Linked DNA regions of Homo sapiens: regions 1 and 2 are each reported to be linked to region 3. Evidence: microRNA targets listed by miRTarBase, many of them from high-throughput screens and not tested one by one. Region 3 holds a microRNA gene; each other region holds the end of a gene's coding sequence.

Evidence for each region. Region 3 holds the annotated microRNA hsa-miR-555 (AGGGUAAGCUGAACCUCUGAU, at 848-868, shown strand). A microRNA usually pairs through its seed, bases 2 to 8, with sites in the 3' UTR of a target mRNA and lowers its output. Matches are read on the target gene's strand: a 7mer-m8 pairs with bases 2 to 8, a 7mer-A1 pairs with bases 2 to 7 and ends in A, and an 8mer does both.
Region 1: miRTarBase lists TVP23A as a target of hsa-miR-555. Seed matches in the 3' UTR shown: 7mer-m8 at 1,267-1,273.
Region 2: the mRNA of TTYH2 is a reported target of hsa-miR-555. Seed matches in the 3' UTR shown: 7mer-m8 at 1,209-1,215.

The regions. Positions count from the first base shown.
Region 1 is chr16:10,767,521-10,770,588 of GRCh38, forward strand. TVP23A (trans-golgi network vesicle protein 23 homolog A) reads right to left here. Exons shown (of 8, transcript NM_001079512.4): 7 at 2,752-2,811; 8 at 1-1,581. The coding sequence ends at 2,752. It overlaps NUBP1 (NUBP iron-sulfur cluster assembly factor 1, cytosolic), which reads left to right. Exons shown (of 11, transcript NM_002484.4): 10 at 429-512; 11 at 1,527-1,831. The coding sequence ends at 1,585. Among named protein-coding and RNA genes, the nearest start is that of NUBP1, 25 kb to the left of the region's middle.
Region 2 is chr17:74,259,901-74,262,968 of GRCh38, forward strand. TTYH2 (tweety family member 2) reads left to right here. Exons shown (of 14, transcript NM_032646.6): 14 at 229-2,120. The coding sequence ends at 309. Among named protein-coding and RNA genes, the nearest start is that of DNAI2, 13 kb to the right of the region's middle.
Region 3 is chr1:155,344,233-155,347,232 of GRCh38, reverse strand. It overlaps MIR555 (microRNA 555), which reads left to right and starts at 788; the gene lies at 788-883. It overlaps ASH1L (ASH1 like histone lysine methyltransferase), which reads left to right. Exons shown (of 28, transcript NM_018489.3): 21 at 764-850; 22 at 2,960-3,000.

The sequences.
Region 1 (3,068 bases), not on the chromosome of region 3:
ATCTTTCTGGAAAGACACCTAGAACACTAGTAGCCCTTTTCGGACTTGGCCTTTTATGCCATATCCTTTTGCATTCTGTACTTTTTTTAACCATGTGCATTCATGATCCTTTCACTCAAAAGCTAATCTCTTAAAATGCAGACTCCTGGGCCCATGTGGAAGCTGCTGAATCAGTTCTCTGTAGGGCCCTGGAACCTGCATTTTCTGTACACCACCTGATTATTTAGCCACGCTGAAATGCTGGCTGGGGACCCTGCTGGAAGGAAGGTCCCTGAGACCCCACTGGTCTTTTCTACTTTGTTCTTCATTACGAGTGAAGCGGGCTCAAGATCTTCCCATTGTCACCAGCACGGAAAGAGCCCCAAGATCTTGTGGCCATTCTGTTTTCCTCTTGGACTGAATTGTCTTCCGTTTGTTTCTTTTTTAAGGTAAGAATTGTGACAAAGGCCAGTCTTTTTTCATTGACGCCCCAGATTCCCCAGCCACGTTAGCCTACAGAAGTATAATTCAGAGTAAGTATTTCCATGAGTACTAAATGCAGATGCCTGTGGGGCAGGAAGCAACATAAAGGAGCCAGGGGTGTGGAAGGACAGGTGGGTGGTGGGGTCTGTGATGACCACAGAGTGGCCCCCATAGCCGAGGAAGCCAGGAGTCCATGAGAAATCTCTCAATGTGTGAGTATTGTGAATTAATTCATAGTTTAAAAAACATGGTGAGGGTGAAATTTATGGCTTAGGAAATACATCCCAATAAAGGGATAAAGTAATTCATTTTTAAAAGTAACTGATAAAAAAAAAAAAGGCCAGGTGCAGTGGCTCACACCTGGAATCCCAGCACTTTGGGTGAAGGAGGCAGGCAGATCACTTGAGGCTGGTCAGGAGTTCAAGACCAGCCTGGCTAACATGGAGAAACACTGTCTCTACTAAAAATATGAAAATTAGCCGGGTGTGGTGGCGCATGCCTGTAGTCCCAGCTACTCAGGAGGCTGAGGCAGGAGAATCGCTTGAACCTGGGAGGCGGAGGCTGCAGTAAGGCGAGATCGCGCCACTGCACTCCAGCCTGGGCAACAGCGTGAGACCGTGTCTCAAAAAAATAAAAAATAAAAATAAAAACTTTGTTGAGCCAGACCAAACCCACGTGCAGGCCACATTCAGCCAGTGGCAGCCATCAGAGGCCCCAGAGTTAGGGCAGAGGTGTCAGTGTTTGTTAAAGCTGTGGTCTCTGAGTTTGTGGCTGGGTTTTACTTGCCTAGAAGAATGATGTCAAGGGTAAGGAAACAGCATTCCCAGAATCCTCCATCTATAGATGGTCCGAGGAAGGCCGCAGCCACTGGTTATGAGCAAGATGGGTAGTGTGAGGTATTCCGGTCACTTTCAAAGACTCAGGGCATCACAGACACAGGTCTTTTTATGGAACTAGCCAGAGGATTCCACCCCTGTCAAAACACAGCCCTCCCCAGCACAGGACAGGGCTGTCAAGGGGTAGACAAGCCATTAGCACTCTATGCCTGTCGTCTTGTTTTCCAGGAATCCAAGAGTTTTGTAATCTCCATCAGTCAAAAGAAGAGAACCTCATCAGTTCCTGAAACGAGAGAATGTTCAGGACCAAGCAGTTACCGAGCGAGGCACTCACTGGGCAGCACATCCAGCCAGACCCGACCAGCTCCGGGATGGGGTGGGTCACAGCAAAAGGACCAGATGCTGGTGTGGTCCGAAGCCACTTTCTCAGAGACACTTTAATCATTGAGTATTTGTACACTTTTCTTTAGAACATATATAAAGGGCATTCTCTACAAATGTGCCGTTTTAAGAATAAAACCCCCTCAAATCTCTCCCCCGAGGCCTGTTTCACGTAAAAAACAAATGGGTTGTGGGATCGTGGGATTCTGCTGTGTCGGAAGCTTAGTCGATTGTAGAAACTCCCGTTTAAGCCATTTCTGCCTGTGAAGATAAGAAAGCCTAGAAAAGAACCAAAGGGGTGAGTGTGCGGCTTCACTGCAGAACACACAGGCTTGTTTTCAAACACCACAGTCCAAACGCTTTTCTTCAGATTGAGGAAAAATCTAAAAGCAACAGAGCTCAGGCTGGGCTTCGTTCTAAAATCACTGCATATGACACAGCTGGGTCAAATCAAAAAGCCCTTGAAGAGTCCTTGAATCACCCAGTAAGACAGAATGTGGGGTCTGTGTAAATTCCCTGTGTAGTAATATGTGCACAGTATATCCAGTAATGTCCAGTGTCATGCAAACCAACTTTCAGGTTTTTTAATTATATAAAAAAGAGGGACAGATGTAAACTCTACGATCATCCTCTTTGCCATGAGGTGCTTGCTCTGTTTGAGACACACAGGATCTGAGACCACGTGGGAGAAGAGTAAATTCCTGTTTTCCCTCCACTCTGGGGCATAAAAGTGGGTGGGTGGGAAACAAGAACAAATCCCCTTGTTCTTTCCCTCCCTTGTCTCTTCCCTCCCCGCCCTTCCCTAGGACCATACATATGATCAGATTTGCACATGTTCAGTGTGAGGAAGGTGTGACCTCGCCCCCCGACCCCCAGCTCCTCACGCCAAGAGCAATGAGGCTGCAAAGCCCAGGGCAGGCCCATTGCCCAGTCTGCTTCCTGCCTGGTCACATGCCTGGCCACCCCAGGGAACAGGGGAAGCCCACCCAGACCCCGGGCCCCTGTGCCCCAAGAGCTGCATTTTTCAGAATTCCCCAGTTCCTCCACACGGGTGCCATGATCCATTTCTCACCTAATGCTGGTGAATCTCCAGCCCCTCGAGGCCAGGCTTCTGAAAGTCACCTGGGCAGGCCTGCAAGGGGAAAAGTCAACCATGGTTTTCTGTCCTTACACGCGAGTGGGGCGATCCTGCTGATGGAAGGCCAGAGAAAACCCACAAAGTACAGAAAACCTGCGGAATTGGTTGCTTGATGTCTTGGCATAAAGCAGTGCTGTTCAAATTTAGGACGGTTCTACCCATTTCAGGATGAACCTGGTCAAATTTCAAAGACTTCTGTCTCTCACTTTTAGAAATATCTATTAAGTTAAAAAAAAAAAACAAAACAAAAA
Region 2 (3,068 bases), not on the chromosome of region 3:
CTGGGGGTGTGTGCTGGGGCGGAGTGGACATTGGAGGACAGCTGGTCTGTGTGTGCATTTTTTATTTGAGGCTGGGAGGCAGAAGTCTTGATGGATGTGGGGTGGAGGCACGGCCGGGTTTCCCTCTGACACCCGACCCAGTTCCACTCTGAGAAGTCCCCGGCACCTTTGCTGGTGCAGTGCTTGGCTGACTCAGCTCTGACCATCCCCTCTCTTCTCTCTTGGCAGTACTCTCCCAGCATGAGAGCCACCTACCTGTCTGTGGCGGATGAGCACCTGAGGCACTACGGGAATCAGTTTCCAGCCTAACAGACTTTCGGGGGTTCCTGCCTCCTTTTTCCGTTCTGGTTTTTAATTAGTGCAAATACAAGCTGCGTTTCTTTAATAGAAACCAAAGGCATCTGGAGCCCGAGAGGCCTCCTGCTGTGGCAGAGGAGCAGCTGGGATTCCCGACCAAAGCCCCAGGGGGTGCAGAAGACTCACCACGCGGGCCAGCCTCTCTCTTTTGCCCTGCTCTCCACACCAGAAATGCCCCCAGGTGCTTGGCTGCCTCAGAGGTACCATCCCTGAGCTGGCTGCCTGGCCCTGCTCACCCCTACGCCTCGCCCTTGCCAGGAGGGGAGTGGCAGTGAGGAGGGGGCCAGGTCAGGCACCACCATCAAGAGAGCTGTGTGTTCTCTCTGGTCCCACAACGATGACTCTGCCTCTTGTCAGCCCAGCCAAGAGCCCAGACGACCCCTCTGTCCTCGTTCCCTGTCCTCGTTCCCTGCAGGTAACATGAGAAGGGCTGATCAGGAGATGCTCTTTAAGAAGTTCGCACCCCTGCTGACACCAGAACAGCCCAAATCAGAGTTCCCAGGGCCAGACAGGCTCTTCCTGGGCCACAGAGGGGAGGCATCAGGAAAGCTCTGCAGTGGGGGGCTGGTGGCTCCGGGGCTGGGGGATCACAGGCTGGTGAACCCCGGTGGGAACAGAGGTGAAAGCCTGCCACATTCCGCCTGTCTCCCTAACCCTCCATTGCCTCGCCTCTATTCCAGAATCAATGCTGCAGAATGTGTTAGCTGCAGATAGGCATGGTCTCAGGTATGAACAGACACTTTGAAACGACTTTAGGTCTTTCTTTTCTCCAGTGTTTTAAACATGTTGATTATCCAAAGAATTGAAACTCCTAGCACATCCAGTTTTTACAACAGATTTGCAGCTCATTCCTTACCCTGGTTAGGTCACTACTTTTGCAGATTTTGCTGGCACTGATCTGGAGATCTGCAGATCTGGAGGAGACGGGAAGGAGTCGATTCTTAAATAAGGATCAGTGAGGCATCCTGTCCCAAGCTACTGTTTGGTGGGGATCTGGGTTCATCTCACCCACAGAGGGAGGATCTTTAAGAGGAGAAAAAAGCCAAGAGGGAAAGCCAGAGTTCCCTGTTCTAGGGGACTAGCCAAATGCCTACATCAGCTGTCCCCTCCCTGTTGTCTCCAAGTAAGTTTGCCAGAAAAGGTTTTAGCAAAGTGCTACAACTGTGTCTTTATAGGAGGATAGGCCTCTGCCCTGCCCCACCCCCACCACCTGTCCCCACCCAGTGTCCCAGGCCACAGGAGCTTATTGGCCAGGAGGGAATAATGTCCCCCAATACTGCCTGTTGAGGGACCAGAGTTGGGGTCTTTGGTGCTTCCAACCTCCTGCCAACCTGGAGTTCACAACACCAGAGCCCCACGGCCTCGCACACTGAAGCAGGGGCGTGCGGTGACTCGGTGCTTCTGTTTTGGAAGAACCACCTGTCATCAAAACATGGACAGCAGGGTGTTCTCAGCTCCCAGCGAAGCCTCCACAACAGAATGGGGCCACAGGGCAGCCGGGACTCCCTGTCTCACCTACATTAACCCATGCATACTGTATGCCATAAACTCACTTTGGTATATCCGCGTCACATGCAGAGAGGAACTCTGCGACGTCAAAGTGTTGCTTCTTAAAGTTTCATTATTGGCAACTAGAGGGTTGTTTTTAATGCATGGAAACTAAACAGATTCCTCGGGGAGTTCCTGAAGGAACCAGGTGGGCAAACCTTTGCTTATATACATGCGGCCTCACCTGGAAGAGAAATAAACCACTTGTACTAAAATGTGCGTTCCGTTTCTGACTTCCACAGCTGCAGGAAATAACGAGGGTATTGAAAGATGGAGCGCTCCCCTCCGGCAGGGTCATGTGGTGGGAGGCTTAGAAGCAGATTCCAGTCGCGATTTCCGTGCCAGGACTGAAAGAGGGGCTTGAACGAATGTCATGGTGCTCTTGCGTGGCTTCCAGCTGCTCTTACAGGACCAGGGACAGGACTTATTTCTGCCCTGATCTTTCTCCAGAATTCCCCCTAAGGGTCACTGTTCTTTTTTTGTTCTTTTTGTTTTGTTTTGTTTTGAGACAGAGTCTCGCTCTGTCACCCAGGCTGGAGTGCAGTGGCGCCATCTCGGCTCACTGCAACCTCCACCTTTGGGGTTCAAGAGATTCTCCTGCCTCAGCCTCCCAAGGAGCTGGGATTACAGGTGGGTGCCACCACACCCGGCTAATTGTTGTATTTTTAGTAGAGACGGGGTTTCACCGTATTGGCCAGGCTGATCTCGAATTCGACCTCAGATGATCCGCCTGCCTTGGCCTCCCAAAGTGCTGGGATTACAGGCGTGAGCCACCTCACTCAGCCGTTAACTGCATCTCAATACCCAAATGAGATTGGCTTTGGGGGGCTTCCATTGTCTCGGAGCTGGAGTGGGACCTGACTTGTAGGCCGGCCCTGCATGAACTAGGAAGGAAGCCTTGGGAATGCACAAGCCGGAGTGTGGTCTGATCACTACGCGTGTCATCTCCCTTTCTCATCTCAGCTGCATTAGTCTCTCCCGCAAGGGAAAGGAGTGGGGTGGGGAAGTGGGTTCTGGGCCCCTGTTTTGCCTGCCAGTCTGCAGGCAGGCCCACCTTTACCCTCCTAAACGTCCTCTGAACAGCCATTCTCTCAACAGCAACCTGACTGCAGACCCAGAACAGCCAGCTTAGGAGGAGAGACTGGAGCTTAACCTGCTCCTGG
Region 3 (3,000 bases):
GAGATGGGGTGTCACCATGTTGCCCAGGCTGGTCTTGAACTCCTGAGCTCAAGTGATCTGCCCACCTCGGCCTCCCAGAGCGTTGGGATTACAGGCATGAGCCACCACGCCTGGCTCTTTCCTTCTTTCTGCCCACTTTCCACTGTACACTTCTCACATAATCTGGATCAAGGAAAATGACAGTATTTCATATAGTGCTTTGCCTTTTGAATCATTAGTGATAATACACTCTATTAATTGAATCCTCTGATAGAGTGAAATATGTTAATACATGTAGGGCTCCTGATGAAGAAGTCAAAGCCTGGATTTGAGCCTTAGTGTCCCCACTAATATATGTGAATGCATAACTTTATGTGTAAAGTGGCTGTAAGTAACGCACAGGATTGTTGGGAGGCTAAAGTTAGACAGGAGTAAATAAAACATTTTGTAGCTGTATTCTGAAAGCAGAATAGCTGTAGCATTTACTTAAATTACTTAGTAATAGTTCAGTAGTCTATTTGTTTTCCTATTCTCTGTCCATCTCCCCATTTTATTTGCCCAGATCTATAGATTATGAGTCAATCGGTATACTTTTGCTTAGAACAGTCATTATTTTGTTTTCCTCCTATTTTACCATTTATCTCTAATTTATCATTCACCCAGTTATCCCTTAGTTCCTCTTTTACTTTACCCTGACCTATTGCTAATTTTTTATTCTGGGCTCCCAGGACACTCTCAATAAGTCATAGCCTCCATGTTCCCCAAACTGTATGTTTTTCTACAGGTATGGCAGCACTGTGATTGTATGGGAGTGAACTCAGATGTGGAGCACTACCTTTGTGAGCAGTGTGACCCAAGGCCTGTGGACAGGGTAAGCTGAACCTCTGATAAAACTCTGATCTATAAGTAGGAGAGGTAGCACATGGTATCTCACCTGTCCTGCTCCTGCTTTGCAGAATTTCCTTTAATAGGTTGTTCAGCCTCTCTGGGCCTTGGTTTCTTAAACTTTACATTAAGGGTCATAATTCTGTTCTTCCCTATTTCAGGAGTATGACCAAAGGGAAAATAAAATACTTAGAAATCTGTGGAAGGAATGGCACTATATAAAACTAAGGTTTTTGGCCGGGCACGGTCGCTCATGCCTGTAATCCTAGCACACTGGGAGGCTAAGGCGGATGGATTGCCTGAGCTCAGGAGTTCGAGACCAGCCTGGGCAACACGGTGAAACCCCATCTCTACTAAAATACAAAAAAAATTAGCCGGGCATGGAGGCGTGCACCTGAAGTCTCAGGTACTTGGGTGGCTGAGGCAAGAGAACTGCTAGAACCCGGGAGGCAGATGTTGCAGTAAGCCAAGATCATGCCAGTGCACTCCAGCCTGGGCGACAGAGCAAGACCCCATCTCTTAGAAAAAAAAAAAAAAAAAGGCCGGGTGCAGTGGATCATGAGGTCAGGAGTTTGAGACCAGCCTGGCCAAGATGGTGAAACCCTGTCTCTACTAAAAATTCAAAACTTAGCCAGGCACAGTGGCAGGTGCCTGTAATCCCAGCTACTCAGGAGTCTGAGGCAGGCAAATCACTTGAACCCAGGAGGCAGAGGTTGCAGTGAGCCAAGATCGCATCACTGCATTCTAGCCTGGGCAACAGAGCAAGACACTGTCTCAAAAAAAAAAAAAAAAAAAAAGCTGGGCATGGTGGCTCACACCTATAATCCCAGCACTTTGGGAGGCCGAGGCGGGCAGATCACAAGGTCAAGAGATAAAGACCATCCTCGGCCGGGCGCAGTGGCTCACGGCTGCAATCCCAGCATTTTGAGAGGCTAAGGCGGGTGGATCATGGGGTTAGGAGTTCAAGACCAGCCTGGCCAATATGGTGAAACCCCATCTCTACTAAAAACTGCAAAAAAAATTAGCCGGGTGCAGTGGCAGGCGCCTGTAATCCCATCTACTTGGGAGTCTGAGGCAGGGGAATCACTTGAACCTGGGCGGCAGAGGTTGCAATGAGCCAAGATCACGCCACTGCACTCTAGCCCGGGTGACGGAGTGAGACTCAGTCTCCAAAAAAAAAAAAAAAAAAAAAAAGACCATCCTGGCTAACATGGTGAAACCCCGTCTCTACTAAAAATACAAAAATTAGCTGGGCGTGGTGTTGCGTGCCTGTAGTCCCAGCTACTCGGGAGGCTAAGGCAGGAGAATTCACTTGAATCTGGAGGCGGAAGTTGCAGTGGGTCGAGATCGCACCACTGCACCCCAGCCTGCCAACAGAGCGAGACTCCATTTCAAAAAAAAACAAAACTGAGGTTTTTATAAACACTATCAGATGTCCATGAAAGGAATAGCTTACAAAATCCAGAACTTGGTACCCTTAACGTCATTTATGTTAGACAGTGGTTTAAGTGAAAAGAGCACTGGACTCAGAATCAGCAAAGGTTAGTGTTAGGCTCACTTCATAGGAGAGAGGGTAAGTGGCTTGCCTAAGTCATTAAGTGGGTTCTGTGCTTGGCTCTGCTATCTTTATATGTGTGATTTTGGGCAAGTCATTTTTAAAAAAAGAAGAGATTTAGGCAGTATTTCTTAACAATGTTGCTGTTGTCATGTTTAGGTGAATAGTTCTTGTTGTGAGGGATGCATTTCAGAATGTTTGGCTTCCTTGGACCCTGGGCATTAAATACCAGTAGCATACCCCAATCATTGTAATAATTAGTCTCCCTTCACACATTTTCATATGGCCCCTAGATTACGTAGAGCAACTACACAATTAGTGCTTCATAAAACATAGATTGAGATACTTAGCCTATCAGTTTTGTCCTCTACCTTCACTTTTCCAGGTTTAACAGCTCTAGTTGCTTTCATCTTTTTTGTATATCTGTGGTATATTGAAATGACTAAACAGTAAGTTTTGATTGAGAATTCTAGGTTGAGAAATAAGTAGGCTGAATGTAGTAATTCCAGCCCTTATACATTGGCTTTCTGCTCCTATCAGGAGGTTCCCATGATCCCTCGGCCCCACTATGCCCAACCTGG